Homo sapiens: one gene and its partners. The protein of the gene in region 5 purifies or fractionates together with the protein of the main gene of each other region. This does not show direct contact. Each region holds a gene or a part of one and is shown on either strand. Other genes may lie near its edges.

Region 1 (6,601 bases), on a different chromosome or scaffold from region 5:
TGCTCCGGGAGCTCCCCCCAGCTCTCAGAGGGTGGGGCGGCCGGACCACATTCCCTGGGAGGGTATCTCATGGCTGCCGGCGCCCCGGCCCCCACTCCTGGCTGGCGGAGGAACCCACTCCCCACGCCACCCTCCCACCCTGGCCCCTCCTGCCAGCCACACCTTGTTTCCAGGGCGACACCCTGGGAACGGAAACCTGAGCTGGTCAACAAGGCTGGGGGGAAGAACAAAGGCTGGTGCACCCCCACAGGGTGGGAGACAGCTGGGGAAGCCCTCCTGGAAGGGTCAGGAATGGCTGCTCCAGCCCTCGGGGCTCTGAAGACAGACCTGCCCCCCCGCTCCCCTCAGCCTGGTGACTTTCCCCATAGTCTCAGTTTCCTCCTTGGGAAACCGAGGGCGACACTCCCCACCTCATTACAAAGGCTGTGGGGATTAGGGGAGATCATGGATAAAAACCAGCCAGGCCGAGGCGGGGCCCATGCAACACACGCCAGATATGGGTCTGGAGACTCTTACATCACTCATCCTACCTGGGAGCCCTAGGCTAACTCGGAATTTTTTGGACGGGGGCGGGTGGGACAGAGTCTGGCTCTGTCGCCCAGGCTGGAGTGTAGTGGCACGATCCTGGCTCACTGCAGCCTCAAACTCTCAGGCTCATCACTCAGACTTTGAAGCCATCCAGTGTTCAAATTCAGATGCAGCATTTTTGAGCTGTGTGTGAATTTGAATGAAGGATGTGTCCTCTCTAAACCTCAGTTTCCAGCCCTGGAAAATGCGGCTTTTAACCCATCACCTAGAAGTGTTCTGAGTGTGAAATCACATAATGCATCTTCCGTGTTTCTCAGAGCGGGGTGTTCTACGAAGGGGTTCCCTCCCTGCCCCAAGGGTCCCAGGAAAGGGACTGAGACTCTTAGCAACTCAAAGCCAAACAGCCTATTAGTGGCAGAAACTGGGTTTCTGGAGCCCTGGATGTCCCACTTTTCACTGGACAACACCACCATCCCCATCATCAGTTGGTCAGTCAACAAACATGTATTAAGCACAGGTCTTAAATAGGGCAGAGTTTGAATCACACCTGTAACATTTTCAGGCCAGGTGGCTCCAGCAAGCAACCTTTCAGGGTCTCAGTGTCTTTAGCTAACGGGGACAGAAATAGTGCTTCCTACATAAGGTGCCTGGGAGTCATCCACAAGTTCATGTGGCATGCAGAGGGTTTAATGTGAACCCCAGCTGGGCACAGCAGTGGCTCAAGCCTGTAAATCCAGCAGTTTGAGAGGCCCAGGCAAGAGGATCACTTGAGTCCAGGAGTTTGAGACTAGCCTGGGTAACATTGTGAAACACTGTCTCTACAACAAATTAAAAAATCAGCCAGGCTTGGTGGTATGTGCCTGTAGTCCCAGCTACTTAGGAGGCTGAGGCAGGAGGATCACTTGAGCCCAGGAGGTTGAGCTGCAGTGAGCTGTAAGCATGCCATTGCACTCCAGCCTGTGTGACAGAGCAAGGCTATGTCTAAAACAAACAAACAAACAAAAAACAGAACATGGACCTTGAAACACTGCATGCTCAATATTTTAGCCACTATCAGCTTCTGTTGGGCAAATGGCTTCCCCTCTCCAAGCTGTGGGAAAAAGAGGGTGATAATCCCTACCTCACAACCTTATGTGGATGGGGAGGGGGTCAATAAGATCATATTGGAAAGAAATTTAGAACAGCACCCAGCAGAGAAAGCAGGTACTCACTAAGTGCTAATGATCTTTATTAAGGCCCAATGTGCTTCCTGTCTGGAATTCTAGAATCTTCTCTCTCACATTCATTTCTTAGGCCCCAAAAGTCTGGCTCCCTGGCCACCACCTTAGCTCAGGCCCTACCACTTTTTCTCCTGAACTTTCTGAATAATCTTCCTAGTGCAATGGCTAGGACCTGGGGTCTGCAGTCACAGTGACCTGGTTTCAAGTTCTAGCTTAGCTGGTTCCTAGTTGTGGGGCTTATGTTCAAATCCTGCCCCCTAGTCTGAGGCTCAGCTTCCCCACCTGCAGAGCGGGGATGACAGCAGATACCTTACAAGGTTGCTGGGAGCGCTCAGAGTATTTATTAAAAGGCAAAGAGTGGCCGGATGCAGTGGCTCACCCCTGTAATCCCAGCACTTTGAGAGGCTGAGTTGGGCAGATCACTTGAGCTCAGAGGTTCGAGCTCTGACAAACATGGTGAAACCCCAACTCTACTAAAAATACAAAAATTAGCTGGGCCTGGTGGCAGGCGCCTGTAGTCCCAGCTACTCAGGAGGCTGAGGCAAGAGAGTTGCTTGATCCCAGGAGGTGAAGGCTGCAGTAAGCCAAGATCATGCTGCTGCACTGCAGCCTGGGCAACAGAGTGAGACCCTGTCTCAAAAAATATATATAAATGAATAAAAGGCAACTAGTGGATCCATGTTTTGGATGTCATCCTGATGTCTGTGGCCTTGGGTGAGATGTGGGGGAGTGGATCATGTAGAGGCCTCTTTTCCAGGGCTAGTAAAGGTGTTTGAGGATTTGGAAAGGGCCAGTGCAGACTGGAGAAGACACCAACCCCATGCAGGGTCCGACAGCCCTCGATTCAAATTCCACACCTGCCACCACAAGCTGAGGGACCCTGAGCCAGCCACTGCTTATCTCAGAGCCTCGATCTCCAAGTAGGAGTGGGACTTCACAAAAATATTCTAATCTTCCGCTTTGTGAACCTCAGAGGGGTGGATGTTGGAGCAAAGCTGTGAGACCCCACCAGTCTAAGCTAGAGTTTGGAGCATGACTCTGGAACCAGCTGCCTGGGTTCAAATCCTGGCGTGATTCCTTCATGGCTGTGGGTCACTTAACATCCTGAACATCAGGTGATATCAGCAGTCCCTGGCCCAGAGGGAAGCTGATAACTCACACGCCACACTTAGAACAGTGCTTGGCACATCACGAGTGCTCGATTAAATATTTGCTAGCCTCCTCTTATTATTATTTTTCATTATGATTGTCCATATTCCTTGTCAATCTCTCTAATCCTGTTTGCTCTTTTGTTCAATGAAATTAATAACCCCTTGGCTGCCCATTAGAACCTCCTTGGAAGCTTATTAAAAATACCAATGTTCATGTCACAGCCCCAGAGAGCTCGACTGAAAGTTCTGGGGTGGGGCTCCGTCACTGGTATTTTCTAAGAATTCCCCAAATGATTCTACCATAGAGGTGGGGTTAAGAACCACTGCTCTACCCCATCCGTTTGCTGTAAAGAGTTTTAAAAATGCAACGAACCTCCAATGCTTAGCACAGACGTGGGAAGACTACCATAGTCAACCTAAGTATCATCAATCTCTTCTCAATGGGTTTTTGTATTGTTTCGTTTTGTTTGAGACAGGGTCTTGATTTGTTACCCAGGCTGGAGTACAGTAGCGCCATCACAGCTCACTGCAGCCTCCACCTTCAGGGCTCAGGTGATTCTCCCACCTCAGCCTCCCAAGTAACTGGGACTACAAGAGTGTGCCACCATGCCCAGCTAATTTATTGTATTTTTTTTTTTTTTGCAGGGATGGGGTTTTGCCATGCCCAGGATGGTCCCGAACTCCTGGGCTCAAGCAATCCACCCACCTCAGCCTCTCAAAGTACTGAGATTACAGGCATGAACCACCATTCCCAGCCCCATCTCAATCTTAAGAGGCACCACAGCAAAGTGAGAAGACAGACTACCTGGCTCTGTCAGGTCTAATTGTGTGACCTTGAACTCTCTGTGCCTCAGTTTTCTTACCTGTAAAATGAGGATCAGATGCTTTATAATTCTGAAAATGTACAGAGGCAATGTATTTTAGAAAGCTTGGAAGAATGGTTGGTAAATGTTTAATAAATGTTCATTTTTATTGTTATTAACTCTCTCTGGGCCTCATTTGCCTCTTAGGTAAAATGGTAATAATAATAGACTCTATCTTTCCTATGGTGAGATTGAATGAATTAATAGATAGGCATTTAGCACAGAGCCTAGCATAAGGTTTTTGCTTTTTGTCTTTTTTTGAGACAGGGTCTTGTGCTGTCACCCAGGCTGGAGTGCAGTGGTATCATCATAGCTCACTGCAGCCTTGACCTCCCGGGCTCAAGTGATCCTCCTGCCTCAGTCTTCCTAGAAGGTGAGACTAAAGGCACGGGCCACCACCACACCTGGCTAATTTATCTTTTTTTAAGAGATAGGGTCTCGTTTTGTTGCCCAGGCTGGTCTTGAACCTCAAGCAACACATTTCTATACTCAGTGATTCACATTAATGATTGTCACACATCTGTTTCCGTTCCTTAAAACTCGGGATGAGCTATATCTGAGAAATTGGAACGTTTTATACTTTAGGAAAATAATACAGTTTATCTACCATATGTATCATGCAATGTCCCCAGTAGGTTCCGAGGCTGTCCTAGTAATCCAACAATTCATAATTTGGCAACCATGTAAGTGTAGGAACAGTCACGGGACATGGGATACAGATGATAAACAGCCTCAAGTTAATGCAGGGGAGCCGGGTGGTGGACCTGGTTCCCCAACCGGCAGCAACTCCGCCGCACGCGCCCCCCAGCAGGAGCCCACTCACGTAGATGAGGCCGGAGTAGTACCGCTCCCGGAGGTTGTGCAGGACCGAGGCCTCGTTGAGGCAGGTCAGCTCGGCCATGTCCTCGGCCTTGCTGAACTTGGGCGGGTTCATGCGCTGGATCTGGTCCCGCGGCAGTCGCAGCCGCCTCCCGCTCTCCGCCAGCTCCACCTCCGCCTCCTCCTCGCCTTCGTCCCGCAGCGCCGCCGCCTCGAACCCGTGAAGCTCCGAAGGCACCCACACGAGACGCCGGGCCGTCCACTCCACCTGCGGGGAGGTGCCCGAGCCAGGCCCGCCACCCGCGCTGGGCCCGCGGGGCGTGAACAGGAACGGCTGGGCCGCCTCGGGCACTGGGCCCGGCCTGGGGGGCGCCTTCCGCCCGGGCACCGACATGGTCACGGCTGCCATGGTCTGCAGGGGCAAAGAAAGAGGGTGGGGGTCAGATGGGGCTCCGTCCCCCGGGCCTCCCTTCCCTACCCCAAATTCCCCAGGCAGCCACCTCTGCCTTCCTTTACCAGACCTCTTGCCATACTTCTGCAAAGTGGGTTAACAGACCCAGCTTACTCATTTCATTCATTCACCTCTCTAGGCACTCATTCATTCTTTAATAAGCTAGGCTGTGAACCAGGCTCAGAGGGTCAGTTCTTTTTTTTTTTTTTTTTTTTTTTTTTTTTTTTGAGACGGAGTCTCGCTTGTTGCCCAGGCTGGAGTGCAATGGCGTGATCTCAGCTCACTGCAACCTCGGCATCCAGGGTTCAAGTGATTCTCCTGCCTCAGCCTCCCAAGTAGCTGGGATTACAGGCGTCTGCCACCACGCCCAGCTAATTTTTGTATTTTTAGTAGAGACAGGGTTTCACCATGTTGGCCAGGCTGGTCTCGAACTCCTGACCTCAGGTGATCTGCCTGCCTCGGCCTCCCAAAGTGCTGGGATTATAGGCATGAGCTACCACACCCGGCCCCGGCTAATTATTTTCTTTTTTTTTTTTTTTTGAGATGGAGTCTCACTGTGTCGCCCAGGCTGGAGTGCAGTGGCACGATCTCGGCTCACTGCAAGCTCCGCCTCCTGGGTTCACGCCATTCTCCTGCCTCAGCCTCCTGAGTAGCTGGGACTACAGGCGCCTGCCACCATACCCGGCTATTGTTTTCTATTTTTAGTAGAGACAGCGTTTCACTGTGTTATCCAGGTTGGTCTCGATCCCCTGACCTGGTGATCTGCCCGCCTCGGCCTCCCAAAGTGCTGGGATTACAGGTGTGAGCCACCGCGCCTGGCCAATTATTTTCAATTTTTGTAGAAATTAGGGTCTCACTATGTTGTCCAGGCAGGTCTTGAACTCCTGACCTCAGGTGATCCACCCTCTTCAGCCTCCCAAAGTGCTGGGATTGCAGGCGTGAGCCACCACTCCTGGCCAGGCTCAGTTCTGGGCACTGACAATGGAGCAACAGACAAGCTGGAAGAAGACGCCTGCCTCCAAAAGTTTACTTTCTAGCCCCGGGCTGTCCACTGCAGAAGCCACCACCACCTGTGCACTACCGGGTACTTGCAATGTGGCATGTGTCACTGAGGAAACACATTTTCAATTTCATTCATTTAAATTCAATCTATTTTATTTTATTTTGAGATGAGGTTTCACTCCGTTGCTCAGGCTGGAGTGCAGTGGTACAACCACGGCTCACCACATCCTTGACTTCCCAGCCTCAGGTGATTCATGTCTGAAATTTATTAATTAAAAAATAAATGTATTAACAGGCATGCCACCATGCCTACTAATTTTTAAATTTGTTTTGTAGAGACAGGGTCTTCTATGTTGCCCAGACTGGTCTCAAACTCCTGGGCTCAAGCGATCCTCCTGCCTTGGCTCCCCAAAGTACTGGGATTACAGGTGTGAGCCACCGAGCCCCATCTTAAAATTTAAATATAAATATCCCCATCTGGAGTTCTAAGTGTAAGATACACACCAGATTTCCAAGACTTAGTACAACAAAAAGATAGTTTGCTGAGATTTTAAATATTTGATGACA
Region 2 (6,601 bases), on a different chromosome or scaffold from region 5:
TATACTTATCAGATTGTAACACATTAAAAAGAACTTTAGTATCTATTGCTCATGTACTACAAATGAAAATGTGAAGTACTACAGCCTCTATGGAAAGTGATCTGGCAAATTTATAATGTTAAAATTAGAAATCCATTTCCCTTGATCTGGAGTCTGTTACCAGCTAATTTATGCCACAGAAATAAAAGCATAAACACATGTAAGAACTCCTGTATTTCTACAGGTGGTCTTAGTGTCAGAAAGCTGGAAACAAAGTGATCACTTATGAACAGTGAAATAGATGAATATAACACACCTGTACTGTAGAACGGCATGCAATCATTATTAGAATAAATGAGAGTTATATCAAAATGGCTTGGACAATATCCAAGAGGTACTGCTGGTAAGGAAGGCCAAGGTGCAAAAACATTTCAAGTAGGATTCTGTTTTGAAATACAATTATATAATAATACCAGACATTTTATCTGAAACAGAGGCTATATTAATATTACATTTATAAAAAGATATGGACATTTAAATTACTTACCTGACGTGGATTTTGTTGACCAAATTTAACTTGATGTGTGACAGCCTTGATAAACTTCTGTTGCTTTGCTCCTTTCTTATTCTTCAAACCGAAAGTTTTGTCCTACATGAGAAAGAGCACAGAAATATCTTAGCAATTTATGTTACCATATATATCCTCCAATGATATCTAAAAATCATTATTTTTATTGATAATTATTCTTTACTAATATAAAAACATGCAAAACACTAAACATCAAGTCAAGGCAATATATGACCTTAAATCATCACCCAGATTCTTTACAATTCAATATGTACTCAACATTATCATCATTAAACCTGTTATTCTATGAAGCTTTTTAAATTTTATTATTTTTATATATATTTTTTATTATACTTTAAGTTCTAGGGTACATGTGTACAACGTGCAGGTTTGTTACATATGTATACATGTGCCATGTTGGTGTGCTGCACCCATTAACTCGTCATTTACATTAGGTACATCTCCTAATGCTATCCCTCCCCTCCGCCACCCCACAACAGGCCCCGGTGTGTGATGTTCCCCTTCCTGTGTCCAAGTGTTCTCATTGTTCGATTCCCACCTATGAGTGAGAACATGAGGTGTTTGGTTTTTTGTCCTTGCGATAGTTTGCTAAGAATGATGGTTTCCAGTTTCTATGAAGCTTTTTCTAAAGCATATTTTGGATATCAGTTCTATGGGATGTGCAAAGTTCTTATATTGGGATAAGAAGTCCTGTAGTTAAATACATTTAGGAAAATGCTTGATTAAAAGGATTCTTAATTCTTAAGCACAAGGTATCTTACAGCCCTTATCAGAGGGAATATAATAATATGCAGCACCTCCAAATCATCCTTTGTAGCAGAATCCATTTTTACTCAGAGTATCTTGAGAGGTTATACGATACTGAACACATTTTTGGGACTACTACATAAGAAGAGGAAGATACATTCAGTTCTGGACTGGTTTTTTAGTTAATAAATGTTATCCTCTCAAAAACAATTAAATTTAATAAAGAAATCAAACTACTGAAATGTATACATTCCTAGTTATTGCTAAGATGGAAATACTAAAAGTATGTAAATTAAAAGCAACATTTTCTTTAAATCTGGAATATTAATACAGTAACTTGGTAATATTCAATATAACAGCAGCTATCACTTATGGAATGCTCATTATGTGCTAAGCACTAATGGTGATCCTTGGCTATCTACTCATATTTAGTAAGTATGCAGTATGGGGTTGGGGGGAGAAAAACATTAAAAAAAATAAGTATGCAGTACAAAAACATATAGAAGCCATTGCACAAGTATGAGCAAGCGTGTGTGTGGAGGGGAGCAGTGGTCTGTAGTGGGCTGAATTTTGGAATGTCCCCCAAAATTCAAGTCCACCTGACCATAAATTTGACTTTATTTGGACGTAGGTCTTCACAGATGTAATGAGTTAAGATGACATCATACTAGATTAAGGTAGGCCCTAGATCCAATAACTGGTGCCTTAATAAGGACCACACAGGCACAAAGTGAAGGAAATGTGAAGACAGAGTGACACTGCTATATAAGCCAAAGAATGCCAAGGATTGACAGATGCCACCAGAAACTAGGACAAGGCAAGGAAGAATTCTTCCCTACAGTCTTCAGAGGGAGGGAGCATGGCCCTGCTGACACTAATTTCAGACTTCTAGCCTCCAGATCTCTGAGAGAATAAATTTCTGTTGTTTTAAGTGACCCAGTTTGTAGTCATGTTACAGCAGTTCTAAGAAACTCATATAGCAGGCTTGACTAGTGAGCTTCTCCCTAAGGTGAATGTGTGACAAGCCTGACAAGAAACCAAATGCTAATATCTGAAATATTTTTTCTGGGTCTTTTCTGGTTCTCTGGAGAAAGATCCTCCAGCTGGGAGGGCAATAAGTCTAACTGTAAACAAGAGAAAAGAGCAGGTAGAAGGGGTCTCAGTTTACTGTACAGACTTACTAGCTTCCATTTTCAGGCTCACATCCCACCTCCTCTGTGCTTAGTGTTCCAGAAGCAGAGAGGCCTGTTCTCTGCCACCTCCCACCTCCAAGAAGACCCCTCCTGTTTCTTGCAGAGGTAGTCACCTGGCTGAGCTGTAGTAGATAAGAATTATTAATTACTCCTAACACTTTTAACTTCTAGTTTTCAGCCTCTTGCCTTCTGTATTACCTAGTGCTTCCCATTGTTGAGTTTTTTTTTTTTTTCATAATTTTGCAGAGGAAATGCACTTGCTTCTTACAGGCACACTCCTAGACAGGCACTCAGACATAACCGCTCTGCTCTAAGTCAGTTACCAACTCATCCATCTACTGCCAATCTTCATATGCTGAGGTCCAAGATTACAGATGTCTTCTAATTTCAAAATAGAATTTGTATTTCTTTCTCATTCTCTTGTTTATGGGTGGTTTTAGAGAGGAAGAAGAGGCAAAAAGGTCTTCTCAAAGTAATTTGAGACCCTCTGAGTGGCATTTAGTATGAAACAAGTGGCCATTTTATAGCCTTTATTTTGCTATTATTTCTAAGGGAAAGGAAAAGTAATAATGAGTAGAAAGAATAATAGATACAAAATACCACCACGTGGACAAGCTAGAAAAAGAAAACAATAGTACTGAAACAATTAGTATTTAAAAACATACAACATGACATAATGTTTACAGCAACCTCAAAATCAGTAAAAGATCTTTCAATAGTCTTAAGACAAAAAAGTACAGAGGGTTTTGCTTCTAAATGGTTATCTCTCATTGGGAAATATCTCTTTATTCATGACATCTATATCCATATACCAAAACTTTGCTTTCCTCTACTTAAATGCTTGTTTCATGATTTAACATCCCAACATGGTATTATACAAAATTCTACATGAATTTTCTACAGCCTATGTGTATGAAAAAAGGTAAGAAGCACAAACAAGCTGGATGTTTCTGCACTGAGCCTTTTACGGATGGCTTCCCTTGTTTCTATAAAGAAAGTTTAACACTCAATTCAATTTGAAGAAAGATGGTCAACATAATGTGATACATACAGATGAACACAGTGCAGCAACTAAGTATAAAATGCCATACTTTTCCTTTACAAAAAGTGAGCTCTCACGGGAGGGAGAGGAGGCTCTAGAAAAAAATATGATCAGGATTAAACAGCATCTACAGGTGCTCTGCCAGAGAAAATAAACTGCGGTTCAACCCATGCTCCATCTGTAACTACAGAGAAGAAACAATGAATAAATAAGGCCAAATAGCAAAGCAGATACTGCCAGATAGACTTAGGAAAGAAAAATGTCCCCTAAGGGGACCTGGCCAGTAAGAAAAGAAAGCACTCACAATGGCAGTTTCTGGTAAAGGTGTATAAACTCCCGATCCCAGAAGAAGAAAAAAAAAATCAGGTTTCATTACACTGCTCTGGCACATAAATAACCAGTTTAAAGAGATAATAAGTGAGTTGTGTTCACCTCTAAGTTAGAGCTCAGAAATTAACATTTTTCCACAGAGAAAGGGGACACTTATTTATCTAGTATTCACTAAACATAAACATAACCCCTGAATATATACTTTATTGAATCCTCTCAACAATTCTATGATACACAGAAACTCAGAAATGATAAATTCATTTGAAGTTAAGTCATTAATAAGGGGCTGGCTGTATAGTGCAAGCATTTAGAAGCATAAACTCTGGAGCCAGACTGCCCAAATTTTAATCCCAAACAGAGCTGGGTAAATTACCCTCTTTGCCACAGTTTCTTATTTGTAAAGTGAGTCTCACTTAGGGTTGTTGTGAAAGTTAAAAGATTTACCTCAGAGAGACAGTGGTGGACAGCAAGGACTCTAGAGGCAGACTTCCTGTGTTAGAATCCCTGGCACAGTTACTTGCCAGGTTAGTAAACTTGGGCAAGTTATTTAATATCTATGCCTGTTTTCAAAACTGCAAAAAGGGTAATAATACATATCCCACTGAGAGAATCAAAGGAGCTAGTATATTTATCACTTGTAGTTGGCTTGTCTCTCTTCTCTCCTTCTCCCCAAAACACTGAGAACCTTGTCTGGGCCAGTAAATGTTAACTATTAAGTGACAGATGATATTTGAACCTAGGTATATTTGACTCCAAGCAAATTCCTTCTACAGTTTTTAATAAACTACTTCCCAGAGAAACCTCATTAAGTTATTGGGCTGGTTGGTGCGCAATAACCTTTCTAAATATCACACTGCAGATCTGAGATACCAATAGCACCTCTTGAAAACAGAATGATTTGCAATTTGGAGAAGTTCAAAAAGGCTTCTTCCTGAGTTTAGGACAGAGCCCTACCTAAAGATTAACCTGAATTACAAGGTAGAAAAAAAGGAGGTTACAGTCAACCCCAAACCACAGTTAAAATAAAACTAGGAGAATAATGGTCCTCATTGGATTAATAAGGTCCCAAAAGTTAACATGATAGTAAAGGAACTGCGTGTTTATGTGTGTTTCAGAAGACAACTTGGGACATGAATACAGAGGAGTCTCGAAAGAAAAGGATGACTTCCTGAGGCTCCAAGAGCCTTAACACTCAGTAAATTCCAGGCTTCACTTAAAACTTCCCTCCCATCCGTACGTAATCCCATTCCTTTTACGGGCCAGCCTCCACTGCTTAAATAAGATGTTTGGAAAAAGGGAAGCAGCGGAAGGGCAGGTCAACACTGAATAGTGCTCCAAGATAATGGAGTCTACCCTCTTGGGACATTCGGGTAGGCAGAAGCTGTCACGGTTTTCCCTCATTAGTTTTCTCCCAAATGCACTAATGTATTCTTGTTGTCCATCCATGCAATATATATTATGCAACTGGTTAATCCAGCTTCAAGTAATCAACATTTGATTTTGGCTATTGGTAGCTGTTCTACACTGGCAACCAATTTCTCTTGCTCCATCTTTCACGACACCTGGATCCTGTCTCTATAGGTCCCTATTACTATTTCCTTGCTGATACAAGTTCTTAGCTGGGTATCTTTTATTTGCTTGCCCTAAGTCCAAGATTATTTCCTTCTTTCCATATTCAAACTTTCTATTGCTCAATACTGACTCCATTTGTCACTAAATTTTAGTTGTAAGAAAGCAAATGGTATATGCCATTTCAGACTAATGTGTTAATTTCTAACAGAACCATAATCCTGTTTGACATATTCATTTCGGAAAGTATTAATACAAATGAATTCATAAAGTTTTGGGGCATTTGAAGAGGCAAATAAAAAAAATGGAGGCAATATTAAAAAATGGAGGCAATATTAAAAAATGGGCAGGAACTAAGCACTGTATAGACTGTGCAGATCAGTCTGATGTCCCCTAGTTTTTATTTATAATACACTATCAAAATAGGCAATAACAATAGCTGCCATTTACTGAATATATACACCATATGGCAGGCACTTTACATGTATTATCTCATTTAACTCACGGGAACTAGCTGCATTTTGCAGATGAGAATTGCATTCCAGCTAGATTTTGTAACTTGTCTAAAACTATAGAGCTAGTAATTTGAAACATGGGACTCAAACCCAGGTCTCTGACTCCAAAGCTAGTGTTCCTTTCATTAATTTATGCTATCTGATGTCTCTTTTACTTCCTTAGAGTTCCCAAAACCTGCATGTTGATTTTTCCACAGTGAAGGTCCATAGAGGTGGCAGCAGAACAGGTACAGAAGAGGAAAGAGGTAGGTAGGACAACCATTATTTTCAAGTCTATTGAAACGTGCTGCTTAAAAATACATGTTTTAGTTAACTATTAATTTTGAGCAATTTAGAATTTCAGGTCATACAGCTATAAAACCTCCCAAAGTTAACCAGATTCTGAAATAAGTATCAGTCTTTATATGTCAAAATAGACTATAAAAAAGTAGTATTTCCCCCTCCAAAATTATAACAGTCACAGAGATCAATTATCTTCTTGGAATAGTCACTGAGACGTGCTAGGCTTTTAGGGAAGTTTAAAAAAAAAGTTGCCTATATAATGAAGCAGACTATATCATTTCCTAACCAGGCTGAATAACAGAATAGTCTCTATAAATCTAATTTCACAAATGCTGTAACTTAACACTACAATTCA
Region 3 (6,601 bases), on a different chromosome or scaffold from region 5:
CTAATTTTTTTTTGTATTTTTAGTAGAGATGGGGTTTTGCTGTGTTAGCCAGGATGGTCTCGATCTCCTGACCTCGCGATTCACCCGTCTTGGTCTCCCAAAGTGCTGAGATTACAGGTGTGAGCCACCACGCCCGGCCTAGCCTAACTTCTTTTTAAACACTTCCTGTTTATCATTCTCAGGTGCCACTTCCCTCCTGCTCCCCATTCACTAGCTGATCAAATATATCCAGTTTCTTCCAAATTTATCACAGTAAAAAGTATATGAAACAGATGAGGACAGAAAGGATGCACAGTAATTCTGAAGACAGAAGAGAACCCATTCATAAAACCGCTATGCCCAAGGTTGCATACTTCAAAAATGCTGGATTGGCAACACTACGTTGCAAAATGCTTCTAATATGCTTTTCAAAGGAATCTGGGGTTTCAGCCAGAACACGGAGGGGAGACTCTGCCACTTCAACATCTTCTCGAGTACAAAGCAGGGGAGGAGACGCTGGATGGACTGTACTTCTGCAAAATAAGTAAGTAAATTGAATTCTACCATGGAGTGATTTACTGTATTACAGGAAAGCAGAAACCACATTAATCCAGAACTTTCAGAATATAAAATAAAGTGTAACTTTTGTAAAAGTGCAAGAATGCATGTTTTCCACCTTGAAAAGGTCACTTTGGGAAGCTACACCCTTATTATTCCAATGCCCCTGATTTGTGAAAGCATTTCTGACTGCCATTTCCAGTTCTTTTCTAAAAGATCAAGGCAGCACAAACACCTAGCATGGATTCTTGGCAAAGGACTTGAAAGCCAGTTTATAAGCCGGAGCCACAAACATAAATTACTTATTTGTTAGGTTTAGAGTTGATCAAAACCAATATTAAGCCAAGAAACTGCTGTATATACCATATTGGTTCTATATAATTTCATTTCTAAAAACTATTCAGTCAAGTGCAAATACTCAAACTTCAAAAAGAGCTTAAAAGATCTCACAGACTTCGGCAGCATGGCAAGTGACTTACTCTGAAGGCAACAATTCTAACGTGAATGTTTGGTTGGGCGTGGTGGCTCACGCCTGTAATCCCAGCACTTTGGGAGGCCGAGGCAGGTGGATCACTTGAGGTCAGGCGTTCAAGACAAGCCTGGCCAACGTGGTAAAACTGTCTCTACTAAAAATATAAAAATCAGCTGGGTGTGGTGGCACACATCTGTAATCCCAGCTACTTGGGTGGCTGAGGCATGAGAATCGCCTGAACCCAGGAGGCGGAGGTTGCAGTGAGCTGAGATCACACCACTGCACTCCAGCCTGGGTGACAGAGCAAGACTCTGTCTCAAAAAAAAAAAAAAAAAAAAGTGAAAGTTCATGAAATAGCATAACTTTATAGACAACTTGTATTTCAGGGAGTTGGCAGAAATATGATCTGAAAGTATCCAGATAATTGGCCTGGCACGGTGGCTCATGCCTGTAATCCCAGCACTTTGGGAGGCCGAGGTGGGTGGATCACCTGAGGTCAGGAGTTCAGGACCAGCCTGGCCAACATGGCAAAACCTCATCTCTACTAAAAATATAAAAATTAGCTGGGCATGTGGTGTGCGCCTGTAATCCCAGCTACTAGGGAGGCTGAGGCAGGAGAATCACTTGAACCCGGGAGGCAGAGGTTGCAGTGAGCTGAGATCGTGCCACTGCCCTCCAGCTTGGGCAACACAGCAAACTCCGTCTCAAAAAAAAAAAAAAAAAATATCCAGACAATTAATGTTTATTTTTCCCCTTTGGGATTCATATTTATTCTGAAGTAAGCTAGTGTGACTAGGTTTTATTTTACTAAATGTACTGTGGGTGTTTAAAAAGTATGCTGAGGTAACTTACAGGTAATTTTTTCTCCAGTGATTTTATTATTTTTGTTTGGTCTTGCTAGCTTTTAGTGCCTTCAGTGTAAATAACACAAAATTTATATTTATTTTTACATCCAGATAGTACAACTTAATCAAGCTTCAAAGACTATGGAAGATCCTCTAAGGACAGTAAACTACTGCCAGTATTAGGAATTTATGTCAGCATCCAGAGGTGCAAGCTTTGAACGGACAAGGGGTGGGGGTGTTGTCTAGTGTTTGAAGCTCCAGTGACTTTTGTTTTTGGTACTCATATTCCTACATTTATGTAACTCAGAATGATCTTCCAGGGCTGTTGGAAAAGGAACATAGTGATTACAGCTTAATTATCTGAGTTCCTTAAAGGAGCAAAGACTAAGAGTTCAGCTTTTTTGTTTTTTTTTTTAAAAGACACAGGGTCTTGCTCTGTTACCCAGGCTGTAGTGCAGTGGCATGATCATGGTTCACTGCAGCCTAAAACTCCTGGGCTTAAGCAATCCTCTCACCTGAGCAGCTAGGACTACAGATGTGTACCACCATGCCTGGCTAATTTTTTTGTTTTTTGTAGAGATGGGGGTCTCACTGTTTTGCCCAGGCTGATCTCGAACTCTGGGCCTCCCAAAGCATTGGGATTACAGGCATGAACCACCACTGCACCCAGCCTGAGTTCAGCTTTATTCCAGTTTACATAGTCTACAGTGTCCCTCAGGCTGGCAGAGATGGAGAAATTAAAGAGTATGAGTATGGACTTCTGAGTCAATGAGACCTGCATCTGTATCCCAGCTCTATTTGTTACCTGTGACTTCAGCATTTACTAACCTCTCGATCCCCGTTTCCACTTTTATAAAATGGAAATGACAGTGCCTTCCTTACAGGGCTGCCCTGATGATTCCAGGAGGCAGTGCGGGTACGTGGCTTACTTCTGAGCTTGGCGTATGGTCACAGCTTGATAATTATTACTCATATCGATAATGGAATTTGGTATTCAATTTTAGTATTTTTTCTCCACACTCTGAAGAAAAGCTCCTGACTCTCAGCTAGGTGCAGGGGATGCCAGAAACTATACCTACAATGAAACCTTATAGAGATGATGGCAGGAACAGAAATATCCATCCTTCCAACCCTCAAGTCAGAAGCCAAAGTATAAACCACACATGTATAGCTTCAAGTTGGTTACTGAGTGCATTTTCCCAACTTAGATATTGCAGAATTAACAAGAGCTGTGTGGAGAATATAAAATGGGACGTACAATAACGGCCATATGAGGCATTCATAGGTACTGGTGATGCAGATCATCGTGGGTCCCAGAATGTCAGGTACAATCCAAAATCCTCGAATTGGAGCTGGCTGCCTGGAAAAACACAGTCATAGTTAAATTACAAAGCAGCAAATGCAATGGAACCAAGAGCAAAGACATGACAGGTCCGCGGCCTTCTCAGGCCTGGGCTGAAGTTGCTTGGGACATCCTATCAGTACCATAACCTCAAAAGTGGTGGCTTGGAAACCTTTAATGCAGCTCCACACTAAAGTCTAGAGCCCATGTGACTAAGTCACTCAGGAATCCCTAACTGTAGCGTGCTGCTGACTGTAATCTCAAAAGTTACACGTTACACTGAAGATCTCTCCAACTTGCACATAAGCCCCAGCTATCTTTGTTTGCCTAGCCCAGTGCTAACAAATTAAGTGCTTAGAAACTGTTGAATGAACAGAACTACCGAGTCTCTCTCAATGAGGCCCAATGTCAATGTCACAGGAAATCACTTGGCACGCACAGCGTGTATCTCTCTCAGTCTTCCTTCCCACTTCAGTGAAGACACTGGAAACTGAGACCTCAGATGGGAACTGTCATTCTGCCAACATGCTCTCCTAGCGGCTCCCATGCCCATCCCACCTGCATGCCTACAACACACATCTGCCCCCGAATGTGGATGCCGCCTCCTCTCACACCTTCTGAAAATTGTACCATCAACTGTGTCGTTTCAAAATCTCCCTATTATCTACTTCCCCTCAGCTTGCAAACTCATGTCTCTTCCATTTAAAATACTCTCATTTCAATATAATGTCCAGTTCCCCTTAACCTATTCTTTCTCGCCATCCCTTTAGAACCAGCAGTCTTTAAACAGCAGTTGAAAACACTAGTTCCCCTTCCATAGCTCCCATTTACCTTTTTGGACAAGACATGGAGACGATATCTGGAAGGTTGTAAACTTTAACTTTTTATTATCAGTGTGAAATCTACACACTACTGGGCTATACACTATGTAACCAGTATCCAGGTCAAGAATCAGGACACTGCAGGGGGCCTCAGGGTTCCCATGCGACCTTCCCTGGTCATAGCCTTTCACTCCCCAGAGAAGTAGCCGCTACTCTGACATTCATAATATCATGTCTTTGCTTTGCTTTATAGTTTTCCTATCTATGTATTCACTCCTAGGCAAGACTGTTTAATTTTACCTGTTTCTGAAATTGATATAAATGGGATTTTGGGGTTTTTTTGAGATAGGGTCTCACTCTGTTGCCGAGGCTGGAGTGCAATAGTGCGATCACGACTCACTGCAGCCTTGACCTCGTGGGCTCAAACAATCCTTCCTTCTCAGCCTCCTGAGTAGCTGGGACCACAGGTACATGCTACCACAGTGGCTAATTTTTTTTTTTGTTTGAGACGGAGTCTCACTCTGTTGCCCAGGCTGGAGTGCAGTGACATGATCTTGGCTCACTGCAGCCTCCACCTCCCAGGGTCATACGATTCTCCTGCCTCAGCCTCCTGAGTAGCTGGGATTACAGGTGCCCGCCACTACACCCAGCTAATTTTTTTTTTGTATTTTAGTAGAGACGGGGTTTCACCACGTTGGCCAGGCTGGTCTCGAACTCCTGACCTAGTAATTCGCCTGCCTCAGCCTCCCAAAGTGCTGGGATTACAGGCGTGAGCCACCACGCCTGGCCTCACCTAGCTAATTTTTAAATTTTTTTGTAAAGGGTCTCACTATGTTGCCCAGGCTGGTCTCAAACTCCTGGCCTCAAGTGATCCTCCTGCCTCACCTGACAAAGTGCTGGGATTATAGGTGTAAGCCACCATGCCCAGCCTACATGGGATTTTATTATGTATTTTCCTTGTTCACTTTTCTTTTTTTTTTTTTTTTTTTGAGATGGAGTCTCACTCTGTCACCCAGACTGGAGTGCAGTGGCATGATCTCAGCTCACTGCAACCTGTGCTGCCCGGGTTCAAGCAATTCTCCTGCCTCAGCCTCCCGAGTAGCTGGGATTGCAGGTGTCTGCCACCATGCCTGGCTAATTTTTGTAGTTTTTAGCAGAGATGGGGTTTCACCATCTTGGCCAGGCTGGTCTTGCACTCCTGACCGTGTGATCCACCCACCTCGATCTCCCAAAATGCTGGGATTATAGGCGTAAGCCACAGTGCCTGGTTTCACTGTTCACTTTTCAAGCTGGTACAGTTTGCTATCCTTCTCATTCCCCACCAAGCGTTTTCCCTGTGGTCCTCTGTATTGCCAAACCTAGATTATGTCTATTTCTTAGTGTATGCTATTTGTCTCATGTCTGTGTATACTCCATGTCTAACAGAGTGCTTATGAGATATCTAGTAATTGATGAACAGAATAAAGGGAGGTATCTAGAATACCTTCCAGGTTTCTACTGGGGATAACTGGGGTGATATGGCACCCTTCAGAAAAATGGGACACAGGAGAGAGAGCAGATTTGGAAAGACAGAAGATGAGTTAAGGGGACATCTGGAGTTTTATGTTCCTATAGGATATCCAAGTGGAGGAGCCCAGTAGGCAGCTGGGTATGTGAATCTGGAGTTCAGAGTGGTCTGGGCTAGGGCGATATGGATGCGGGAACTGTCAGCACTGAAGCCATGATTACGGCAGAAGTTACTCAGGAAAGGACCTAGAAAGAATAGAGAAGACCCAAGGAAAGAGTTGTGAGCATTACTTATAAGCAGTGAGTAGAGGCAGAGGAACCCGCCCAAGAAGGAAACTTGAGAAAAGGGCTGCTGGCGGGACTGAAGGAGAACCTGGAGGGACAGACGTCAAGGATGCCAAGGAGAATGTGTTTCAAAGAGGAGACATGGGCAACCACATCAAATAAACACAGCAATGCAGTGAAGGGCAGACACAGTCTCTGCTCTCATGAAACATATACATTCCGGTAGTGGCGACAGACATTAAAAAAATGCAAATATAAATAGTGTAATATGTGCTACAATGGATAAGAGAATAGGAGAGCCCCAAGTTAGACTGGGGAGTCAAGGGTGTTCTCTGTGAAGAAGTGACATTAAGATCAGAAAGAAGGGTAGGAGTTAGCCAAGAGAAGACAGCAAGCTGGGGCTGGGGCTGGGGCTGGGGAAGGACCTTCCAGTCAGGAAACAGTATGTCGAGTGGCCCTGGAGAGGAGAAAGCTTCTGATGAGCAGGACACTCTTAGGGGAGAAGTATCACGTCTGCAACTTTCAAATGACTCAGCAGTGAATACTGTGGATGTGAGTGTAACGGATACAAACGTATCTGAACTGCTGAAATGAACAATTGTTTTCTGATATACAAGGGAGGGAGAGTCCTTACCTGCAGGGCAATGGCTTCGTACAAAGGATGTGTTCAACAAAGCATTTCTGTTCTGTAGAGAGTTCCTGTAAACTATCCTTATCTTCTTCATCTACCATGGAAGACATTACATAAATGAAATGATGCTTAGACAAGTCTCCAAATTAAAATGCTAATGAT
Region 4 (6,601 bases), on a different chromosome or scaffold from region 5:
CCACTGACCTTCATACATACCAGACATGTTTAAATCCTAGTGATGCTCACAGATTGGTCCAAAGTAGGGACTTATTCTACCTCCATCATCCCTACATAAGGAATAAAAGATCTCCTGTCCCACCCAACATCATAGGTAGGCAATTCTCTGTGAAGGGCCAGATAGTAAATATGTTAGGCTTTGTGGATAAAGGTGTCTGTAGCAACCACTCACCTTTGTCATTGATGGCATAAACAATGACAAAAAGGAATGGATGTGCCTGTCTTCCAATATAACTTTATTTACCAAAAAAACAGGCAGCAAGCAGGATTTAGCCTAACCCCTGTTCTACCTAGTAGCTTTTTTTCCTATTACTAAATGAAGTTAATGAGTCTTTAAACAGATGGAAACATATTTAGTGTTAGCAGTTCTATATTATTATGGGAATCCTTTAAAAATTTATAGGCTATACATGTTTTTCTTAAGAGCAGGCAGCGAGCCCAGCTAATCTTAAATAAACCCAGCCTCAACATTTAAAAAAATGTAAAATTATATCAATACATTGCTGAAACTAAACCAATTTTGTCTTCAAAAGAGAAATATTTGAAACTGTTGTTTAAGCAGAAATAATTTTTAAAATAAAAATATGCACATATGTCTTAAAGATTTATATAAAAAATGGAATGCCAAACAACTGAAAGGAGAAATCAGATTTAGATTATATCCACGAATTTATTCTCTCGTAATTTTAGTTCTTTATATATAAAAAAGTAAAAACAGCAAAACAATACAACCTGGGCAACACTGACCTATATAAACAGACCTGGTACATTACCACTTAAAAACCAATTCAATTCCAAAAAGCAGAAACTGTCTTACTTGTTAAACAAGGTATCAGTTGCTATTTTTTTAATGGTCAAGATGATTTCCAACTCTGGCTCCTCTTTTTAATAAATATGTTTTGACAAGTGCCTTTGTAATGAACTAATCCATTTGCAAACTTGGCAGGCAAAGATAAAGTCAGTTTCTGTTTTTCTTCCGAGAGCTGTTGGACAGTGTGTAACTGTAGAGCTCGGCACGTAGAATGGCTGCACTTCCTGTGATTTTTGAGTTGTCTGCCTTACTTTTTTCATACATTGCATCATCAATTACCCATTCATCAGACAGTAGTCAGTCTTCTTTCACAGAATCTAAAATGTCCCAGCTTGGGATAGTCTGCCAGAAATTGTCTCGTATTACTAAATTGTTGGTCCTAAGACCGTGGGACAAAAAAGTGGGAAAAACGGTTTGATGGAAGCTTCTTCTGTTTAGAGCTCTAATAGTTCTCTTTATTTTGTGGGGTTATTTTTTTCCTTAACTAAAATCTTGTCCATAAAATTCTCCATTAGAATTTTATATAAAATAATTGCCCTGAGAAAAACAGTAACTAAAATTATGAAGGGTTATTCACTCATTAATGTGAGACGATCCTCAATTCCTTATTGCATTCATTCAATTAAAAAAAAACCTTTTTTTTTGAGACAGGGTCTCATTCTGTTGCCCACGCTGGAGTGTGGTGACATGATCCTAGTTCACTGCAGCTTTGAACTTCTGGGCTCAAGCAATCCTCCTGCCTCAGCCTTTGGAGTAGCTGGGACTACAGGTGTACACTACCACACCCAGCTAACAACTCATTCTAAAGAAACTGTTTTAACTATTTTAACCTTAGCCATTTTAAATTTATAGGTACCAAATTCAGGTCAGCTTCAAATTTGGGACGGTACAGAAAATAGTTAAATTGTATTTGTTTCCGAGGACAAAATGAGCAACAGAGGAACAAAGGACTTTTTCCTTTGTTGAGGCCACTCCTATTCTAAACTTGTAACTAGGGTGTTTCAATCTGACTGTATATAAATCAAAACAAAAATTTAGCTTGAGATTATTTCCATTTACTCCCAGGTTGATTTAACCAAATTAAAGATAATTTGCATTTTTGATGGCCCTAAGTTAATTTTAATCCCAAACTAGATAAATATTTCATTAAAAACCAGGAATACTGCATCTAGGTATTTTTAGATTAAGTGGCTAATCTGTTTTTCTAATAATTCTTATATATAATTGCAGCCCTTTAAATAAAACTAGCTTTTGCAGTAGACTGATTAAAATCCACTGAGTCAAGAAATACCTAAGAATACATTTTTACTCAATACCATCTTATCATGTGGGCTGCTGACTTAAAAATATGTGGTTTTCTGTTTCAAATAAGATTGTTCTTGTTACATTCCCTGAATCACACCCAATTTATATTTCAAAAATCAGTTAGAGGCCGGACATGGTGGCTCACACCTGTAATCTCAGCACTTTGGAAGGCTGAGGCGGGTGTATCACCTGAGGTTAGGAGTTCGAGACCAGCCTGACCAAAATGAAACCCCATCTCTTCTAAAAATACAAAAATTAGCCGGGCATGGTGGCATACCTCTGTAATCCCAGCTACTCAGGAGGCTGAGGCATGAGAACTCTTTGAACTCTGGAGGCGGAGATTGCAGTGGGCCGAGATTGCACCACTGCACTCCAGCCTGGGTGACAGAGTGGAACTCTGTCTCAAAAAAGAAAGAAGGAAAAAAATCAGCGAGGTTGGAAAAAATCACTTCAAGTTAATAATATATATATTTTTACTTTTGAAATTTTTTATAAGTAAAATGAATACATTACAATCAAACACAGAACACATATTAAGTGGACAATAAATATTTTAATTTGCCTTTTGTGTGTATGTGAGTGTGAGTGTGTTCCATGGTGGTTTATGTTTTAGATATGTGTGGTATTACAGGACAAAGAAATTAACTCCCCCATGCTCAAAATGTGATTTCCCCCTCCCTGTCTAAGCATTGCAAGAATGCAGACCATAATCACACAATGCATACTTTATCATATGAGGCCAAAACAGCATTTTCCTCTCCTGTGCCTCTGGTCTGATGGATACCCAGGGAAACAAATGTTATCTATGAATGGTCTTTTCTGCCTGCCCAAACATGTCTGTCTATTATCAGGACTGGCCTGGCAGGACCTGGTTTCTGATCCTAACCAGCTGTGTGAGAACTAGAAACGTCATTTCATCTGTCACATGGAGTTGGACTAGACTATCTCTCCTGTCCCTTCTAACTTTCAAATCTCTTGATTTAATGGTTCTGTCCTATATGTATCCTGATTTCTTTTTTTTTTTTTTTTTTTTTTTTGAGATGGAGTTTTGCTCTCGTTGCCCAGGCTGAAGTGCAGTGGTGTGATCTCAGCTCACTGCAACCTCCACCTCCTGGGCTCAAGCAATTCTCCTTCCTCAGCTTCCCAAGTAGCTGGAATTACAGGCTAATTTTGTATATTTTTAGTAGAGATGGGGTTTCACCATGTTGGTCAGGCTGGTCTCAAACTCCTGACCTCAAGGGATCCACCCACCTTAGCCTCCCAAAATGCTGGGATTACAGGCGTAAGCCCCGACGCCTGGCATGTATCCTGATTTCTGGGGTATTAATTAGTTCACATGGCCAGCCAAGACCCACTCCAGATGCAGTGGGGCTCCTCCCCATCTGTCACAGTACACTGGATCAACATAATGGGAAGTTATCTGTTGTTGTCATTTCATTTTTACTTGAAAAATAATTTACATACTATATTATTTTTTAAATAAGAAAACCATATTATTATTATTTTTTATTTTTTTGAGATGGAGTCTCACTCCGTCGCCCAGGCTGGAGTGCAGTGGCATTATCTCAGCTCACTGCAACCTCTACCTCCCGAGTTCAAGCGATTCTCCTGTTTTGTATTTTTAGTAGAGACGGAGTTTCACCATGTTGGCCAGGCTGGTCTTTAACTCCTGACCTCAGGTGATCCACCCCCGTTGACCTCCCAAAGTGCTGGGATTACAGGCATGAGCCACTGCTCCCGGCCAGAAAACCATATTATTTTTTAAAAAAGAAAACCACCCAGTCAGGCACAGTGGCTCACGCCTGTAATCCCAGCACTTTGGGAGGCTGAGGCAGGCAGATCACGAGGTCAGGAGATCAAGACCATCCTGGTCAACATGGTGACACGCCATCTCTTATAAAATACAAAAAATTAGCTGGGCGTGGTGGCACACGCCTGTAGTGCCAGCTACTCGGGAGGCTGAGGCAGGGGAATCACTTGAACCTGGGATACGGAGGTTGCAGTGAGCCAAGATCGCGCCACTGCACTCCAGCCTGGCGACAGAGTGAGAGTCTGTCAAAAAAACAAAAAAAACAAACCTGATGCATATTTCCTAAAGACTACAACATTCTGATATTCTATGTATAGTATATATTTTTGCATAACTGAATAAAACACATAATTTAAACACTGTTAGTGACCAAAGCCACCATGTTTGAGAAAAGGCAATAAATTTCAGCAACTGTTTAAACTGCTTATAAATATAGTATGCCAAAGCTGGAAGTTTACTGGATAGGAAGAGTAGCTTAGACAGAAAGCGTCTCTGAGGCTCTATGACTGGCTAGGTACCCGACCCACGCGTTCTCAGAGTACCCTGTGCTTGTCCCTGTTGTCACACCCAACATGCCGTGTTATAACTGCCAGTCTCTGTGATTACACACTGCAGGATCCTTGAGGGCAGGGATGGTGCTGGTTCACTGAAGTACCCTTCGTGCTTGACATACAGTAAAGACTCCATAAATAATTGTTTGATAACTACTGAATGAGTAACCAGCCATCTTCACTCATTGATCTGCTGGGAGCAACAGAAGCAGGCAAGAGTAGCACCACATGACACAGGAATAAGAGGCACGGTTTCCAAGAGCAGGCCGGACGCAGTGACTCACGCCTGTAATCCCAGCACTTTGGGAGGCAGAGGCGGATTGCCTGAGGTCAGGCCGAGATCAGCCTGACCAACATGGTGAAACCCTATCTCTACTAAAAATACAAAAATTAGCCGGGCGTGGTGGCGGGCGCCTGTAATCCCAGCTACTCAGGAGGCTGAGACAGGAGAATCGCTTCAATCCAGGAGGCGGAGGTTGTGGTGAGCCGAGATTGCACCACTGCACTCCAGCCTGGCAACAAGAGTGAAACTCCATCTTTAAAAAAAAAAAAAAAAAAAAAAAGGCACGGTTACCAAGAGCCTGTGTTTGGTGTTTGCCAGATGGCCAAAGGCTCCCATCAAAATATGACTGATGGAATACTCAGACATGTCCATTCAATAATGTCCCTACAGTACGACATACTATACTCACCTATTATGAGTGACACCAAAGGATACATGATATTTTGGCTAGGATCATTTTGACTGTTAAGCCAACTCTTACACACACCTTACCAAAATTTGCAAACTGTCTATTAATCACAAGCAACTAAGCACCAACAACACTATTCAAGAAAGGAAAAATGAGTTAGGGTGGGTTATATTTTACTAGGAAATTCCTCTGGCTATATTCTATAGGAATTAGGTGTAATATCTGTTATGCAATTGCTTAGCATAGTGTTTGGCAAAGTATTAACAAAGCCTCTTTCCCTTCTGCATGAGAATTTTACCTTTGTTAACTTTCTAGCTCTGTTCCCCTGGCAACCTAATAAAAATTCATATGTCAACTGCTAGGCAATGTTACATATGGTAGACATGATGCCCAATTGGTAAACTGCATCTGGACTGGGAGAACTATAAATGCCTGATAGGAAGCCTCAGCTCTGGGCATCCCTAAGTACAGTGACGCTTGGAACAGGCATGTCTTTTATAGGGACACTGGAGGCCATGTCTATGAAGCTGTTATAAGAGATACTTGTTCCTGTGGGACAAGGGGCTCTTAAGCCGGGGAAGCTTCCATACTTGCCCCATGTAGATCTGTCTCCTTGCACCTGCACTATGCCACACAGACAGCTGCAGAGACTTTCAGAGAAGAGCAACTGGTTCTGCCTTGCTAGTAAGCAGTGCTTCCCATTCTATATCCTTTTAAGTGAATCTGATGCCAAGTGTGGCAGTTTATAAATTTGAATGTTTCTAAACCTTCAGTTGGGCCTAAGACCCTTGGAGGGCACTGCAGTATTATTTGCATGTTTTTCTGATGGCAGTAGATGCTCCTCAGGGGCTATGGATGGTAAAAGATGTGAAACTGTTTGGTATGTTTTTCTACTTCCAAAAAAATCCTGACCATACCCTTCACTGTATGCATGACAGATAATCCATATCCATTACATGTCACCAAGACCTGTATATGAAATTGATGCCTTCCTTCAAAATCCCCAAGCTTGTTACTACTAAACCTTCCTCATCAAAGCACATAATCCCTGCCCTAACCTCCACTGATTAACTGACAAAGGTCCAGAAATCAAATGATGGATATAAAAATTGCCCCCCCTAAAACCACAATTGTCAATGAAGAATTGGCAGTAGTAAAATAATCTACCTGGAGGGTCAAGACGGATGCTAAATGTTCTCCTTCAGTTATGAAGTTTCCATGTCATCCGATCATGCAGTCATGTGAGTTACTGTCACCTTTTAAAACTAGGATATATTTAGGCCGGGCGCGGTGGCTCACGCCTGTAATCCTAGCACTTTGGGAGGCCGAGGCGGGTGGATCACAAGGTCAGGATATTGAGACTATCCTGGCTAACACGGTGAAACCCCGTC
Region 5 (5,718 bases):
TAGGGTGGATACATACATCTGGTCTGGGGGAGGGAAGAGGGGCAGAAGGCCTCCTGGGAAGGGGATATGCATTCCGTGGGGTCAAGAGTTGAGGACCAAATAACCAGGATCAGCTACCCTGGACAGCCTCTTGGGCTAAAGGGGTAAAAAGCTGAAGGACCCTAAGAGATCCAGAGCCTAATGAGGTTGGAAACAACTCTCCTTGTGCAGTCAGGATTTCCATGGAGTAAAACGGTCGACTTTCCTCCTCCATGGAAACCCTTTATAGTCCTAAGTATGTCAGAAGTGGCCAGGTTATGAATGTGTATATTTGGGGAGGGGCATATTCTAGCCCTCCCACTGTTCTGGGCTCTCTCATGGTAAAGATGTCAAAGGAGCAGAGAAAGGGCATAGCCCCTTTATATAAACTCCTCCTGACACTCCATCAGAGTGAAAAATTAACAGGATGATTCCAAGAACTTGGTGAGAAGGCATGTACCCTCTGGTGCTTCACAGAGAGGGAACCTCTTTCCAGTCCCCCATCCAACACTCTACTTACTCAATAAAGACCTTTTGGGGACCGGGCGTGGTGGCTCACACCTGTAATCCCAGCACTTTGGGAGGCCGAGGCGGGCAGATCACCTGAGGTCAGGAGTTCGAGACCAGCCTGGCCAACACGGCGAAACCCCGTCTCTACTAAAAATACAAAAAAAATTAGCTGGGTGTGGTGACGGGCATCTGTAATCCCAGCTACTCAGGAGGCTAAGGCAGGAGAATCGCTTGAACCCAGGAGGCGGCAGTTGCAGTGAGCTGAGATCGCACCACTGCACTGTAGCCTGGGTGACAGAGCGAGACTCTGTCTCTAAATAAATAAATAAATACCTTTTGAGATAGTGGGTTAACTGCCATAGGCTCCTCTTGGGATGCCTGATCTCTCTTTTTTTTTTTTTTTTTTGGAGACAGAGTCTCATTCTGTCACCAGGCTGGAGTGCAGTGGCGCGATCTTGGCTCACTGCAACCTCCACCTCCTGGATTCAAGCAATTCTCCTGCTTCAGCCTCCCGAGTAGCTGGGATTACAGGCATGTGCCACCATGCCCAGCTAATTTTTATATTTTTAGTAGAGATGGGGTTTCACCATGTTGGCCAGGATAGTCTCAATCTCTTGACCTCATGATCCACCCACCTCGGCCTCCCAAAGTGCTAGGATTACAGACAGATGTGAGCCACCACGCCCAGCTGATCTCTATATTTTTATAGTCTATTTTTGGATGCCTGATCTCTGTATTTTTACAGCCCATTCCTGCTCAACTATAATGGCTTTTGACCGATTCAGATTAATCAGTTACAGACACAATTGACTCATAGTCGTATTCCTTTTTTTTTTTTTTTGAGACAGAGTCTTGCATTTTTGCCCAGGCTGGAGGGCAGTGGCGTGATTTTGGCTCACTGCAACCTCTGCCTCCAGGGTTCAAGTGATTCTCCTGTCTCAGCCTCCCGAATAGCTGGGATTACAGGTGTCCACCACCATGCCTGGCTAATTTTTGTGTTTTTAGTAGAGACAAGGTTTCACCATGTTGGCCAGGTTGGTCTCCAACTCCTGACCTCAAATGATCTGCCCGCCTTGGCCTCCCAAAGTGCTGGGATTACAGGTGTAAGCCACCGTGCCCAGCCTATATTCATTCTTGAATTCACAAGGACATCACCATCATCCATCACCACCATTCTCATTAGTTTATATTTATTGAGCACTCATAATGTTCCAGCCCCCGACTCCAATGACCGCATTACCCCTCCTACCCACTCCCATTCCCATCCCTGGATCTTTGGAAAAAGCTTCATAATCATATCTGGCCCTCAGACACAATGATATAAGGACAAATTTCTTGGGGACCCTGCAGTGTTTGGTCTTTGGCCAGTCTGTCCCTGGCACAACTACAGAAATAAATATATATATATATATTTATTAAACCTTTGCTTGTATCTGTACAATATTGATCTCTGCTGATTGCTTAAAATAGAACCTGATTATCTCTACTACTACAGCATCTCCTAAGCCAAACAGCCCCACCACAGAGGAGGCCCACTTTCACAGACTGGCTAAGAATCCTCTAGAGCATTTTAAGTAGTTGCTCTGAATTTTGCACAGCAGTCTAATACCTACTTTTCCCTAGAGCTATTGCCCAGAGGAACAGGACTGAGGCAGAAGGGGCACTTGGGGATGATATGGAAGGATCTATAAGGCAAGTCTAAAGATTTAGTGGCCATGTCAGATGTTTGGGGAAGGGACTCTATTTTCCAGACATTTCAGATAGCCATCCCGGGCTCACCTGAGGAGTGCTGGCAAAGACAAGAGTCCCCTGAATGCACATATGGTCTAAGCGTACCTTGAGAAGTCGTGAACATTTCCCCAGAAAAGTGAAGACCCTAGAGTCCCCTCTTTTGCATTTGCTGTCGCCAGATGGTGTCTTCAGCAGTGAAGCGGCATTTCCTTTAACAATCTGTGATTTCCTAGGATGCTCAGAGAAGGCTGGGTAATGACAGACCAACCCACCCCAAGGAAATCCTATTCAAGTCTAATGGCTAAGTGAGGAGCCAATGGCTTCTTCGAACCTAAAACTGGCTCCTCCTCAACCACAGCTCTGGCACAGGTATGCTTCATACAAAGAGAACTACTTCCCCAGACACCGCTGGTGAGAGCTGGCCAGTGAGTTAGCCAACAGAAAAGGTTGCTGGCTCAAATGGCTGGTATAGTGTGATACCACTAATGAGAAAATTAATCACATGTTGCTGGTGGAAGGGGTGAGTGCTGGTCATGGGCTAGAGACTGGCTCTGAGGGTTTGGATCACCAGATGGATGCTGGGCTTGAGGAATACCCTCTCCAGGCAGCTGATCAATCACTTCAGGGACCACCCAGGACTTCTAATTTATCTCCTCAGGGACCTCCTGGGCCTGCAGATCAATCTCCTCAGGGAACTCTTGGGATGGTTTATCAATCTCAGGGATGCCCTGAGATAACAGATTGATCGCAGAAGTCTCCTGGGCCAGCCTGCCAACCTCCACAGAGAACTCCTGGTATGGCTGGATGACCTCCTCAGGGATCTCTTCAGCTGGGCTGCCAACTTCTACAAGGGTTTCCTGGACCAAGCTACCAACCCCTACATGGAACTTATGGACCAGCTTGCCAACCTCCACAGAGACCCCCTGGCATGGCTGGCTGACCTCCTCGGAGTTCTCCAGACATAGCTGGCAAACTTCCTCAGAGACTTTCTGGCACAGTTGGCTGGACTTCTGGCATGGCTGGCTGATGTGAGGGACCTCCTGGCATGTGTGGTTACCATTGTCATGGTTCTCCTGGCATTGCTGGCTGATGTCAGGGACCTTCTGACATGGCTGGCTGAGCGCCTCAGAAATGTCCTGGCATGGCTGGCTGATGTCAGGGACCTCCTGACATGGCTGGCTGACCTCCTCGTATGGCTGGCTGGTTTCCATAGGTGGCACCTGTGGGGACTGATTTGGTTCAAAAAGCTCTTGCTCCCCTTCTATGGAGAGCTCTTGTGCTCCACTCCCAGGGGTCTCCTGGAGCAGCCCAAGGCCTTGATGTTCTTCAGCCACGTGTGAATTTAGGGAGGGTTGATCACTGAAGCCAAATTGGGAGTTACCATCTACTGTAGTAGGGGAAGAAGGACCAGCACTGGACACAGTGCTAGAAGGGCCACTGCTGTCTGTAAAGCAAAGTCAAGAGATCAAGTTAGAGAAGCTGGAAGAGTAGGCTCTACCCTGTGCAGATAGTTCAAATGCTAGAATTGTTGGCCTATGCTACTTATGTCTTGAGGGAAGAGTGTCCAAATTCTTCCTAAGTTAAGCAGAGACTCCTAAGTTTGCTTACCTCAGGAACTGTCACCCTGGCCTAATGTATACTTTGAGAGTAACAATAAGGTACATCTAAGACTTCAGGAGAGAGTGCTAAGACCCACTTCATCTGGTTCTTTCACAAATACACTCCCATCCCAATTCCAAGTTCCCAAGGCCTCTCATTCCTACTTTGGAAGCATATGAATACTTTAGCCCAGTGGTTCATAAACAAAATCATGAAAAAATTTTTTAAAATACTAATTTCCAGTTTTCAACTCCAGAGATTCTAATTCTATAGGTTTAGCGTAAAGGTGTAGTTTGGAGGAGGGAGGAGGAAGAAGGCAATATAATTTTGTTGGAACACTCTCATTTGAATCTGATGTACACCTTCTGTTAAGAATCATTCTTTAAAGCAATCAATGTATTTCTGGGGCAGAGGTAATCATTATTTATAGCCCAAATGATAAGTTGGCAGAAGAATGTAGAAAAACCATGTAAATCAGAACAATAGGAAAGAAAATGGTTTACCTGGCTGGGTGCGGTGGCTCACGCCTGTAATCCCAGCACTTTGGGAGGCCGAGGCAGGCAGATCACTTGAGGTCAGGAGCTCTAAACCAGCCTGGCCAACATGGCAAAACCTTGTCTCTACTAAAAATACAAAAATTAGCCAGGCGTAGTGGCGGCTGTCTGTAATCCCAGCTACTCAGGAGGCTGAGGCAGGTGAATCACTTGAACCCCAGAGGTGGAGGTTGCAGTGAGCCGAAATTGTGCCACTATACTCCAGCCTGGGCAACAAAGCAAGACTCTGTCTCAGAAAAAAAAAAAAAAAGAAAATAGTTTACCCAAAAATGGAAGATGGCCATGGAATTTCTACATGGCAGTTCTTAACCTTTCTAGGGGTCAGTGGCCCCTTTGAGGTACTAAGTCAGATATCTTCCAGGAAAAATCTATATAAGAATATTCACACTAATCTTTACATGTGATTCCTGAAGCTCACAGACCCTACCCTGAAACCACATCTATGGATCCAGAGTTAAGACGCTTGTAAGTCTTGGGACATACAATGTTACAGGCTTGTGCATATTATATACACGGAAAACATTTAAAAACTGATTTCCTACATCCTGACAGTAGTGTAATAAAGACCTCAGAGTCTTCAATTACACTGTGGGATGATTCCTACTCCATCCTCTACTGCTTCATCGCCCTCTAGTACTTGACTAACCTACTTTTCCCTTGGTAAACATCATTTTTGTTGATAATATTATAACGATATATTAAAGCACTATGGTATCAATAATGACAGATTCTGGGAAAAGGGAACATCAGAACATATTGCCATTGAAGAAAACCTTGAAAAGTTGGTAAACCTGAGCCTACAAAGGCTCAATCCATCATTGAGTTGAAGGTATGCTAGTTATCTCTCTTCTGTAAACAATCAAAGGAGGGGCTGGACACGGTGGCTCATACTTGTAATCCCAGCACTTTGGGAGGCCGAGGTGGGCAGATCACAAGGTCAGGAGTTCGAGACCAGCCTGACCAACATAGTGAAACTCCTCCTCTACTAAAAATACAAAAAAAAATTAGCCAGGCATGGTGGCGCATGCCTGTAATCCCAGCTACAGCTACTCAGGAGGCTGAGGCAGAAGAATCACTTGAACCCAGGAGGCGGAGGTTGCAGTGAGCCGAGATTGCACCATTGCACTCCAGCCTGGATGACAGAGCAAGACTCCACCTCAAAAAAAAAAAAAAAAAAAAAAAAAAAAGAATCAAAGGAGGCATGCTTCAAGCAGAAAAAGAAGCCAGACGCGGTGGCTCATGCCTGTAATCCCAACACTTTGGGAGGCTGAGGTGGGTGCATCACTTGAGATCAGGAGTTCGAAAC

What was found.
Region 1: the proteins of PPIP5K1 (region 5) and MYH14 purify together in Homo sapiens (affinity purification with mass spectrometry; one large-scale study listed by BioGRID and IntAct). This does not show direct contact.
Region 2: the proteins of PPIP5K1 (region 5) and ZC3H15 fractionate together in Homo sapiens (co-fractionation; one large-scale study listed by BioGRID). This does not show direct contact.
Region 3: the proteins of PPIP5K1 (region 5) and NUP88 purify together in Homo sapiens (co-immunoprecipitation; one large-scale study listed by IntAct). This does not show direct contact.
Region 4: the proteins of PPIP5K1 (region 5) and ZBTB8B fractionate together in Homo sapiens (co-fractionation; one large-scale study listed by BioGRID). This does not show direct contact.

What each region holds. Positions count from the first base shown.
Region 1 is NC_000019.10:50,208,755-50,215,355, reverse strand, and holds part of MYH14 (myosin-14), read right to left. Parts: intron 4,994-6,601; 5' UTR 4,991-4,993; coding exon 4,586-4,990; intron 1-4,585. UniProt on the Homo sapiens protein: Cellular myosin that appears to play a role in cytokinesis, cell shape, and specialized functions such as secretion and capping.
Region 2 is NC_000002.12:186,489,260-186,495,860, reverse strand, and holds part of ZC3H15 (zinc finger CCCH domain-containing protein 15), read right to left. Parts: intron 629-6,601; coding exon 527-628; intron 1-526. UniProt on the Homo sapiens protein: Protects DRG1 from proteolytic degradation. Stimulates DRG1 GTPase activity likely by increasing the affinity for the potassium ions.
Region 3 is NC_000017.11:5,388,449-5,395,049, forward strand, and holds part of NUP88 (nuclear pore complex protein Nup88), read right to left. Parts: intron 6,534-6,601; coding exon 6,443-6,533; intron 3,215-6,442; coding exon 3,113-3,214; intron 513-3,112; coding exon 354-512; intron 1-353. UniProt on the Homo sapiens protein: Component of nuclear pore complex.
Region 4 is NC_000001.11:32,490,777-32,497,377, reverse strand, and holds the end of ZBTB8B (zinc finger and BTB domain-containing protein 8B), read right to left. Parts: 3' UTR 692-6,601; downstream 1-691. UniProt on the Homo sapiens protein: May be involved in transcriptional regulation.
Region 5 is NC_000015.10:43,531,774-43,537,491, forward strand, and holds the end of PPIP5K1 (inositol hexakisphosphate and diphosphoinositol-pentakisphosphate kinase 1), read right to left. Parts: intron 4,482-5,718; coding exon of another isoform or gene 4,362-4,481; intron 3,704-4,361; coding exon 2,901-3,703; 3' UTR 1,702-2,900; downstream 1-1,701. UniProt on the Homo sapiens protein: Bifunctional inositol kinase that acts in concert with the IP6K kinases IP6K1, IP6K2 and IP6K3 to synthesize the diphosphate group-containing inositol pyrophosphates diphosphoinositol pentakisphosphate, PP-InsP5, and bis-diphosphoinositol tetrakisphosphate, (PP)2-InsP4.